2 separate regions of the Homo sapiens genome follow, and region 2 is linked to region 1. Evidence: fine-mapped expression QTL. Tissue or cell type: whole blood. Region 1 holds a variant in brackets; the other region holds the start of a gene. All regions are shown on one strand. Distances are between the middles of the regions.

Region 1 (6,148 bases):
CAACATAGTGAGACCCCATCTCTATTTAAAAATAAAACGGCTGGCCCGGGGCGGTGGCTCACACCCGTAATCCCAGCACTTTGGGAGGCCGAGGTGGGTGGATCACTTGAGGTCAGGAGTTCAAGACCAGCCTGGCCAACACTGCGAATCTCCGACTCTACCAAAAATACAAAAATTAGCTGGGCATGCTGGCACGAGCCTGTAGTCCCAGCTACCTGGGAGGCTGAGACAGAACTGCTTGAACCGGTGAGGCAGAAGTTGCAGTAGGCTGAGATCACACCACTGTACTCTAGCTTGGGCGACAGAGCGAGACTCCATCTCAAAAAAAATAAATAAATAAAATGGCCTACAAGAGAGATGACTACCTAGAGGGGAGCATGTCAATAATAGCATTCTTTTTTTTCAGACGGAGTTTCGCTCTTGTTGCCTAGGCTGGAGTGCAATGGCATGATCTCAGCTCAGAGTTTCACCATGTTAGTGAGACTGGTCCTGAACTCCTGACCTCAAGTGATCCACCGTGCCCAGCCAATAACAGGATTCTTTAAGCCAGGAGGGACATCCATTATTTATTTGTTGATGGGCAAAGAGGCAATGGAGAAAGGAGATGGAATGATAGATGGGACATGGTTTTAGAGGGACATCAAGGCATGGGATCCAGAATTGGCTTTGAAGAAAAGGGAAACCTCTTTCTCTAGAATAAAAGAAGAGGGGACAGACCAGGTGCGGTGGCTCACACCTGTGATCCTAGCACTTTGGGAGACCGAGGCGGGTGGATCACGTGAGGTCAGGAGTTGGAGACCAGCCTGACCAACATAGTGAAACCCTGTCTCTACTAGAAATAAAAAAATAATTAGCTGGGGGTGGTGGCAGGCACCTGTAATCCCAGCTACTTGGGAGGCTGAGGTACGAGAATCACTTGAACCCAGGAGGCAGGGGTTGCAGTGAGCCGAGAACAGGCCATTGCACTCCAGCCTGGGCGACAGAGCGAGACTCTGTCTCAAAAAAATTTAAAAAAAAATTTAAAAAATCGCCGGGTGCAGTCATCACACCTGTAATCCCAGCACTTTGGGAGACTGAGTCGGGTGGATCATAAGGTCAGGAGTTCGAGATCAGCCTGGTCAATATGGTAAAACCCCATCTCTACTAAAAAAAAAAAAAAAAATTAGCTGGGCATGGTGGCAGGCGCCTGTAGTCCCAGCTACTTGGGAGGCTGAGGCAGGAGAATCACTTGAACCTGGGAGGCGGAGGTTGCAGTGAGCCGAGATTGCACCACTGCACTCCAGCCTGGGTGACCGAGTGAGACTCCGTCTCAAAAAAAAAAAAAAAGGGGACAAAGATGAATGCTGTTACAGGTAAGTTGGGGGTTGGAAGATAAGTAATCTGCTGGAGATGGGGTGTGGACAGAGGTCTTGAATATATGGAGAAGCTCTGAAATAGCAATTAGGAAAAAGGGATAAATCAGACACTGAAGTGCTTAAGGTTTGAGATATGAATTTCCTCCAGCAGTCCTCAGCAACCAGCAGGTAGGAGTAAATAACTGAATGATTCCAGGATGGAAGGTGGAGCCCCAGTAATGAGGAGGTCCTAGATGTGAGCCTCACGCTTAAATAGAATGACACAGTCAAGTAACTGAGCTATATGTATTATCTGACAAAACATTTATAGCTTATTTTGTACAATTTTTATGTGATGAAAAGTTAATTTGAGAGAAAAGACCTAATTAGCTGGAATTAGTGTAATACAGAAACTCTTTTCAACTCCCAAAATGATGGGCAATATCACTAAATGGTTTAGTGGTTTTATCAATGAATAATTTTTCATTATCAGTGAGACCTGGAAACAAATTGGCAAAGCCTCTCCTTAAATGACAATTTGATAATCTTTGTCAAGATATAAAATGTGCATATTATTAGGGAGGATGAGGCAGGCAGATCACAAGGTCAGGAGTTTGAGACCAGCCTGGCCAACATAGTGAAACCCCGTCTCTACTAAAAATACAAAAAATTAGCCAGGCGTGGCGGCGGGTGCCTGTAAGCCCAGCTACTCGGGAGGCTGAGGCAGGAGAATTGCTTGAAACCAGAAGACGGAGGTTGCAGTGAGCCTAGATCACGCCATTGCACTCCAGTCTGGGTGATAGTGCCAGACTCTGTCTCAAAAAAAAAAAAAGAAAAAAGTGCATATTCTTTGACCTGGCAATTCTGCTCTTAAAAATGAAATTACTTGAACATATGAAAAGGCATATGTACAAGTATGCTTACTACAGCATAGTCTGTAATACCAAAAGCCTAGCAACAACCTAAATGTTCATCAATAGTAGTTGATGATATACCCATAGATTAAAATACTGTGCAGCCACAGGAAGAAAATTTAAATACTCATAAATGTTCCATATATTTTTTAAAATGACAAGATAAATTAAATGGCATAATGCCGTACTACCGCATGCTCGCTTGTTTTCCCAAAAGCATGCGTACCTGAGCGTCTATGGCTACCTGAAAATGCAAGGAATGTATCTGATAAATCAGAAAAGGATAGCAGTAGTTACTTCAAGAGATCTACCTGAGTAGAAACGAGACTCAATTTTCATTGTGTGCCATCTGAGCTTTTTCCTATTTAAAAAATTAAGTAAACTCAGTAAAATGTAGAAATAGAAACATATTAATTATTTTAGATGTGTGGACAGTACAGTTTTCAATGCGCTTTCATCATTTTCTTATTTGTCACAACCCTATAAAGTAGGTATCTTTATCCTTATTTACACAGACAAGAAAAGCCCAAAGATAAAGTGACTGGTCAAGTTCATCATGCTGGCAAATGCTGAACTGGAGATGGAACTGAAATTCTGATTTCTGGACACACATTCCCTCTATGATTCCACACTACTTTTCTTGGAAACTAGGGAGTAATTGTTTGAAAACATGGCTAAAGGTTACCTCTAGGTTCTCTTTGACACTGTGTCCCACAGGT[G/A]TATCTGTCAACATGTCTGGTATTTCCCTCCTTCCCCATCTGTTTACTCATCTACGTATTTTTTTCTAAGTTAATTAGCCTCCAATCAAACAGCCATCTACATCAGAAAGCTGGGAGTCACCAGCTCTTTTACTCCTGCACCTCACCGACCACCAAATCCTATTGATCCAGGCTACCTAATGTTACTCAAATCTCTCTTTTCCGCTAACACTGCCTTTACCCAACCTCCCATTCTGGTTTGGACGACTCCAAGATTCCTCACTGAGCTAGCAGGTTTCAACCCACTCCAATCTATCTTGCCAGTCATCTCTCTAGAATATCAATCTGATGAGATCTCTGCCTGGCTGAAACTCCTTTAAAATGACCCAGTCTTCCAAGATATTATTCAAACTCATTTATGGAATTTATGAAAATAACTACATGATCTCAAACTCATCTCTCATTACTCTCCCTCTTTCTTACCCTTACTCCACTCTAGATCTCCCATATGATGGCCAAGTGCATGCCACATGGTTAGCCCTTCCAACCCCTTTGGCCACATCTCCTGGCATTCCTCTAATTGGACCTAACCCTCTGGCCATAATGCCCTATTAACAGTGATCCAAACAATTTGTTTCCTCTCATTCCTCTGTGACTGTGTATGTTTCATTTCCTTTGCCTGGAATACCTGTTTCGAGGCTAACTCCTTTTCCTTTCTGAGTCATCAAAGGGTAATGACCCCCAGAAGCCACCTGCTATAGTTTGAATGTTTGTCCCCTTCAAAACTCAGGTTAATACCGAAACCCCAATATGGTAGTATTGAGAGGTAGGACCTTTAAGAGGTGATAGGATCATGAGGGCTCTGCCCTCATGAAGAGATTAATCCATTCATGGATCAATGAATTAATGGGTTATCATGGGAATGGGATGGGTGGCTTTAAAAGAAGAGTAAGAGAAACCTGAGCTAGCATGCTCAACTCCCTCACCATGTGATGCCCTGCATGGCCTCAGGACTCTGCAGAGTCGCCACTGGCAGGGCTCTCACCAGATGTGGCCTCATAACAGTGAACTTCTTAGCATCCAGAACTGTAAGAAATAAATTCCTTTTCTTTATAAATTCTCCAGTTTCAGGTATTGTTATAAGCAACAGAACAGACTAAGATATCACCTTTGTCTCTTCCATCACAAACAAGCAACCCAGGCAGGCATTCCCACAGGATTCTGCTTACTTTGGTCAGCACTTAACATGTTACACAGATTGCACATGCTTGTCCCCTGCCAGCATATCCTGAGCTCCTTGAAGGCAGGGACACTGACACTGTTTTATATTCATGGCCTAGTGGTATATGGCATTATCATTACTATTTTCCAAATAAAAATAAATTCAGAGGACAAAAAATAGCTAAAATTTTACAAATCAAGCCACAGATTACAGTGCATGCTTTATGAACATACAAGAAACCAAACCATTAAACTAATAAAAATATGCAAAATATGAAACTAATGGGGTATATACGTTTTGAGAATAAGAAACAGGAAGAGGACTGTCTCCTGTCTTCACAGTTTGTTACAAGGAAAAATGATCCATTTTTTATTAACTTAAACATAGTTTAAAACTGCTTACAGACCTAATTTTATTGTGCTTTACTTTATTGGACTTTTTGAAAAACTGAAGATTTGTGACAACCCCGTGTAAAGCAAGTTTATCGCTGCCATTTTCCCCAACAGCATGTACTCACCTCACGTCTGTCACTGTAATTACTGCAATATTTCAAATTTAAATTTAAATTTTTAAATTATGTCTTATAATGATCTGTGATCAGTGATCTTTGATGTTACTACTTCAATTGTTTTGGGGTGCCCTGAACCCACACCCATAACAAAGAGCTTAACTGATAAATGTTGTATGCATCCTGACTATTCCACCAACCAGCTTTTCTCTCTTCCCTCCCTCTCTCCTCTAGTCTCTCTATTCCTTGAGAGGCAACAATATTGAAATCAGATCAATTAATAACCTTACAACAGCCTCTAAGTGTTTAAGTGAAAGTCACGTGTCTCACCCGGATGCGGTGGCTCATGCCTGTAATCCCAGCACTCTGGGAGGCTGAGGCGGGTGGATCACGAGCTCAGGAGTTCAAGACCAGCCTGGCCAAGATGGTGAAACCCCGTCTCTACTAAAAAATACAAAAAAAAATCAGCCAGGCCTGGTGTTGGGTGCCTGTAATCCCAGCTACTCGGGAGGCTGAGGCAGAGAACTGCTTGAACCCGGGAGGCAGAGGTTGCAGTGAGCCGAGATCACGCCACTGCACTCCAGTCTGGGCGACAGAGCGAGACCCCGTGTCAAAAAAAAGGGTCACGGCTGGGCATGGTGGCTCGTGCCTGTAATCCAGCACTTTGGGAGGCCGAGGGGGGTGGATCACGAGGTCAAGAGATCGAGACCATCCTGGCCAACACGGTGAAACCCTGTCTCTACTAAAAATACAAAAAATTAGCCAGGCATGGTAGCGGGCACCTGTAGTCCCAGCTATTTGGGAGGCTGAGGTAGGAGAATGGCGTGAACCCAGGAGGCAGAGCTTGCAGTGAGCCGAGATCGCATGACTGCACTCCAGCCTGGGCGACAGAGCAAGACTCTGTCTCCAAAAAAAAAAAAAGAGTCACTTGTCTCTCACTTCAAATCAAAAGGCAGAAGTGATGAAGCCTGTGAGAGCAAGGCATATCAAAAGTCGAGACAGGCCGAAAGCCAGGTCTCCTATGCCAGGTAGTTAAGTTGTGACTGAAAAGGTAAAGTTCTCTAAGGAAATTAAAAGTGCTACACTAATGAACATATGAATGGTAAGAAAGCAAAATTGCCTTACTGCTTATGAAGAAAGAGTGAGTAACCTGGATAAAAGATTAAACGAAACAAACATTCCCTTTAGCCAAAGCCTAACCAAGAACAAGGCCCTTTCTTCAATTCTATGAAGGTTGAGAGAGGTAAGAAGTTGCAGAAGAAAGGGCAGAAGCTAGAAGAGGTTAATGAAATTTAAGGAATTTCTATAACATAAAAGTGCAATGTGAAGCAGCACATGCTGGTGCAGAAGCTGTAGCAAGTTATCCAGAATACCTAGTTAAGATCACTGATGAAGGTGGCTACACTCAACAACAGATATTCAATGTAGACAAAACAGCCTTGTACTGGAAGATGCCATCTAGGACTTTCATA
Region 2 (5,000 bases), 130 kb after region 1:
AGCGCCGCTGGTTTCACAATTTCGCGGGTGCCCCCCACCATCCCCAGCCCGCAGCATAATCGGTGAAGGGAGCCTGCGGTTTCTCCGCCGCGCCTTCGCCCGTTGCGTCCTGCGAAGCCAGTGGAATCGGTGGTCACAAGGTTGGTTTCACCAAGTCGGGCGTTTCTTGGCACTGGCACCGCTCTGCGCTTTTGCTGGCCCAGGCCGGTCTCAGCACCGTTAGGTGCTCTCTAAAGGCGACTGTCTGTCGTGGTTAGGAAAGCTGCTATGGGACGACAGTTTTTTAGAAGTTTCTAGTCTAGCCCAGCTGGCGGTTTCTGGATCGCAGAACCACTGATTGCGCGGAGCTGGATGTACTTCTGTGGCCGCGCATGTTTCTCTGTGGTATCCCTACGGCTGTCGTCGAAATCGCGGTGTTTCTCTGGCCCCACCGCCACGTGGGCAACTTCTTCAGTGGCTGCGGGGTTCTCTCCACTGAGTTGCTGGTTTTGATCCACGCTTTCTCCCAGAGAGCAGACGAGACACTTTTCTGTTTGTGTCAACTGCTAGTCGTGCTGTGCACAGTTTCCTCGTCTCGGTGCGGGGCTTTCTCCATCCGAGGCCCTCTAGTGCCGGCTTCGCGGTCGCAGCACCCGGCGTTTCCGTTGGCTCTTTCGCCAGCGGCGCGAAGCCGGCGGTTTTGCTGTCACAGCACTTGCTGCACGGAGTTTCTCGGTAGCCGAACTTCTCTTTTTTTCTCAGAGTCGACGGTTTCTTGGTGACGGCACCGCTGGTTGCGCCAAAACAAATGTTGTCCTTGACAACCCCGCCGGCTGCATTCCCTTTCAGGCTCCTGGCACCGCCATTTCGGCGAGCCGTGGTCTCTTGTTCACAGCTCTGTGCCTCCATTTCTCGGTGGCGGCAGCCCTCAGGCCGCGGATCTGAGAGATTTAAAGTCGCAGCTGCCCCCGTTGCGCCGAGTCTGGCGTTGCCGGATGGGTGCTGCAGGGCTGGGCGGGGGGAGCCCGACGCTCCTTGGAGCCGGTGACAGGGGAGCTGCAGGGGCACAGTCTCTTCCCAGCGCCGCCGCACGGGTTCCGGCTCGGCCTCCAGAACGCAGTCCTGTGGCGGCGCCGCCGGCGTCTCTGTCGCAGGACCCCACGGTTTCGCGCGTCGTTGGCTTCTTAGTCCTAGCAAGTTTCGATTTCGCGGTGCCTGGGATTTCCACCCTCTGTCCAAGTAGGGGAATAGCCAAAATGTATTTTCTCAGCCCAAGCAAGTCCTGACTTAAGACAAACACCGGTCTAGCCCTGGCTGCGATATCTAGGCCGTAGGAACTCACCCGTTTCCCCATGCGAAGGCGAAGTTACCCTGTGACTCGTTGGTCAGCAGCTCCGGGTTTCCAGTGGCCTCGGATTTCTAATCATAACAACCATGGGGTCAGCCTAGCCTCAAGTTTCTTAGTCCTAGCAAGTTCCGGTTTCCTACTGGTAAGACTTGCTTTAGCTGCGCAGGAAATGTTTAACTCCTGTGGAAATCTGGGTACCAGCGAATGCTTTTTTTTTTTTTTTAAAGGTTTAGCGATGACCAGTTTAGCAGTGTTGGGAGCTCTTATACCAAGTTTGGTTTCGCAATATCGAGTCCTGTCTTAGCTATGCTTGTGTGTTTTTAAAACTCCCGTGGAAGTCAGGAAATGCCGGCGATCGCGATGTCTCAGTTTTACCAAGCTCCCTTTGACAATAGCAAGTCCTGCCCATCGAGACTTTTTCCTCTTGTAGACCAAATCGGGATGTACCAGCTACTACGATTTTTTAGACGTAGCTAAACACGTTTAACCGTGGATATTTTTGTTTTTTTTCTCGTAGGAAATTATGACAGGAGCAACCTGCAGGGGTTTAGATCTGACAGAAATATTCTAATGGTAGGCATTGCATCGCTTAGCCATATTTGTAATTTCTTCTTTGTAGGGTTGGTTCTCTGTAACTTTTGCTTACCTTAAAATTATTTTTGTGTCTTGCTCTGAGGACAATGTTACCGATGTGTTTTTCATTTTTACTTGCATTTCAGACTTTCATTATTTTAAATTATGTATTTTTTTTTTCTTCTAATTTTGAGCGTCTCAGATTCGTGCTTCTTGACTTTCATTCTCTCAGGAGCCGGGGAGCCGAGCTCGGTCTTAGCCTCGCTGGTATCAGGTTCCGGGTTCTGTCTGGAGGCTCCGCTTCCTATGCAGAGCTGGCGGTTTTGTATCAGCACGTTTGCCAGTGGCGCCCACTGGGCGTTTTCTCAGTTGCTGCACCCAACGTGACATTTCCCGTTCGCGGGGTCCTTAGGTTCTCAGTGCTGTCACTTTTTCGCTCCTACAACCGCTAGTATCTCCTAGGAACTTCCTGAACCCCGTTTTGCCGTGCAGAACGGTGATTGCACCGAGCCGCTGTTCGCACTAGTAATTGTGTGGTACCATTAGCCGGCGCTTTTTCTGTCACAACCCATTAAAACGGGTTAAAACATATTAAACCTATCAAACACATTGAACGGATTAAAACACATTAAATGCCGCAACACATTTTTCTGGTACAACACATTGAAACAGAGTTGGTTCATTCCTCCAAACAGGTTGTTTAGGTGTGGAAGCACCGCTCTTAGTTCTAAGAGCATGCTGTTTCTCTTTAGCAGCACCCTTTACGGCGCCAAAACGGATATTTGTTTGGCAATACCAGCGCTATCCGCTAGGTGCCGGCGCTTGCTAAGTTCAACGCGCCAGTTTCTCGTTTGCAAGGTGGTTAGGGCAGAGCCCTAGCAGACAGTTTTCCGGTGGCAGCAACGCTCATTTCCCGGAAACGGGTGGTTCTTGGCCCTTGCGCGCTCTTGAATACCTGCGTTCTGTAGCGCTAGTTCTCTTCAAGATTTGCTTAGTGTCATTTCATTTCGGTTTCTTTTCTCGCCATGTTTTTCTGTCGGAATTACGGTTCGTTTTGGTTCTATGTACTCTCTAAAATGTTATCGTTTTTCATTTGTCTACTAATTTTCGTGCATTTGTTACTACTGAGTTTCTTAATATCTGACTGGCCTCCGCCCACGGGCTCTGCAGAGCATAAATACTCAGGCTGATGGTAGTGCAGAGACTCTCCCTCCTTGATCAGCGCAAACGTTGGTCTGAGGCTTGAGGGATGGAGCAACATTTTCTTGGCTGTGTGAAGCGGGCTTGGGATTCCGCAGAGGTGGCGCCAGAGCCCCAGCCTCCACCTATTGTGAGTTCAGAAGATCGTGGGCCGTGGCCTCTTCCTTTGTATCCAGTACTAGGAGAGTACTCACTGGACAGCTGTGATTTGGGACTGCTTTCCAGCCCTTGCTGGCGGCTGCCCGGAGTCTACTGGCAAAACGGACTCTCTCCTGGAGTCCAGAGCACCTTGGAACCAAGTACAGCGAAGCCCACTGAGTTCAGTTGGCCGGGGACACAGAAGCAGCAAGAGGCACCCGTAGAAGAGGTGGGGCAGGCAGAGGAACCCGACAGACTCAGGCTCCAGCAGCTTCCCTGGAGCAGTCCTCTCCATCCCTGGGACAGACAGCAGGACACCGAGGTCTGTGACAGCGGGTGCCTTTTGGAACGCCGCCATCCTCCTGCCCTCCAGCCGTGGCGCCACCTCCCGGGTTTCTCAGACTGCCTGGAGTGGATTCTTCGCGTTGGTTTTGCCGCGTTCTCTGTACTCTGGGCGTGCTGTTCACGGATCTGTGGAGCTAAGCAGCCTTAGATAGCAGCAGAAGGCTTTTTGGATTCTCCTCCTTGAAAAGATTCTCAGTTACCAAACGTCTCCACCTAGAAAATAAAAATACATTAAGATGTGCTTTCATTGCTGGTTGTCAGTTTTTAAATTCTCTTTTTCCCTTATGTTTCTTTCTTGTTTCGCGTCGCTTATTACTTTCAGTTTCCTTGTATTTTAAATATTTGTATTTATTTCATTAAATATTTCATTCGTATCTGTTTTCACTTTGAGAAATCTATTTTACGATTGTAGAATTCTTAGAGTTTTTGGCAAATTTAAAATTTGTTTTTTTCCATTGTATTTTAAAATCTTATTCCTACTATTTTTCTAATTATTGCTTTTTAAATGTATTGTTTGTTTACATTTAATTTTATATCATGTCTTTTACGTTATTATAACGTCTTTTTAATTTTAATTGTTAATTTTATTTTTAACAGCGGTCTTTCTTTTTTTCAGTATATCGATTCATTGTTTTACACTCAGGAATTTTATTCACGATCATAAGACTGAGAGGTTTATCAATCTTTGCTATTTCTCGTGGAAGGACCACGCAATTACTTATATTAATACAACTTCACAGATGACCAGTTCTTAAGATTACTTATTCTGGCGGGGCAGCGTGGCTCACGGCAGTAATCCCAGCACTTTCAGCAGCGGAGGCATGCGGATTGCTTGAGCTCAGGAGTTTGAGAAAAGCCTGGGCGACAGGGTGAGGCCTGTGTCTACAAAAAATGCAAAAGTTAGCCCTGTGAGATGGTGTGCACCTGTAGTCCCAGCTGCTCCGGAGGCTGGGGTGGGCGGGTTGCTTGAGCTCAGGAGGTCGAGGCTGCGGTGAGCCGGATAGCACCAACGCCCTCCAGCAGAGCGAGAGCCTGTCTCAAAATAAATAAATAATTGAAAAGACTACTTATTCATGGGTCTCAGGGCTAGCAGTGTTTCCAGCGTCTTTTTCTTTGGAACAGTTTAGCTTGGCTTATAAGAGAACTACCAGTTACTTAATGGTACCACAACTGGGTTTAGCAATTCGGGTAGGCACAGCAGGTCCGGCTTGGCCCTGCCTGCTTTGACTGCCTTTTCGGGAGTTTTAAACCTCCTACACTCGGAATGTAGCCCTGATTGTGGTTTCTCTGCATAGCAAGTTCGGACTTAAGCGGAATAAGTATCGGCTTATTTCGCCTGCGATAAAGATGCTTAATTCTGCGTTCGAAATATTCTGAGCGAGTCCTGGGTTAGGGATTTCTTAGAGTAACAAGTGCA

What was found. PIP is the estimated chance that this variant, and not a neighbour inherited with it, causes the effect.
Region 2: ANXA2R starts here. The variant in region 1 is fine-mapped to the expression of ANXA2R in whole blood (TOPMed, PIP 0.95).

What each region holds. Positions count from the first base shown.
Region 1 is chr5:43,165,814-43,171,961 of GRCh38, reverse strand. All of the region lies in intron 5 of ZNF131 (zinc finger protein 131), which reads right to left. Among named protein-coding and RNA genes, the nearest start is that of NIM1K, 23 kb to the left of the region's middle. The variant G/A (reference allele first, on the strand shown) is at 2,968.
Region 2 is chr5:43,038,196-43,043,195 of GRCh38, reverse strand. It overlaps ANXA2R (annexin A2 receptor), which reads left to right and starts at 2,877. Exons shown (of 1, transcript NM_001014279.3): 1 at 2,877-3,825. The coding sequence starts at 3,150. The coding sequence ends at 3,731. All of the region lies in intron 2 of ANXA2R-OT1 (ANXA2R overlapping transcript 1), which reads left to right. It overlaps ANXA2R-AS1 (ANXA2R antisense RNA 1), which reads right to left and starts at 1,062. Exons shown (of 2, transcript NR_015447.1): 1 at 1-1,062. RefSeq lists enhancers at 19-218, 299-508, 1-529, 729-1,018, 1,489-1,568 and 4 more and a silencer at 2,614-2,883.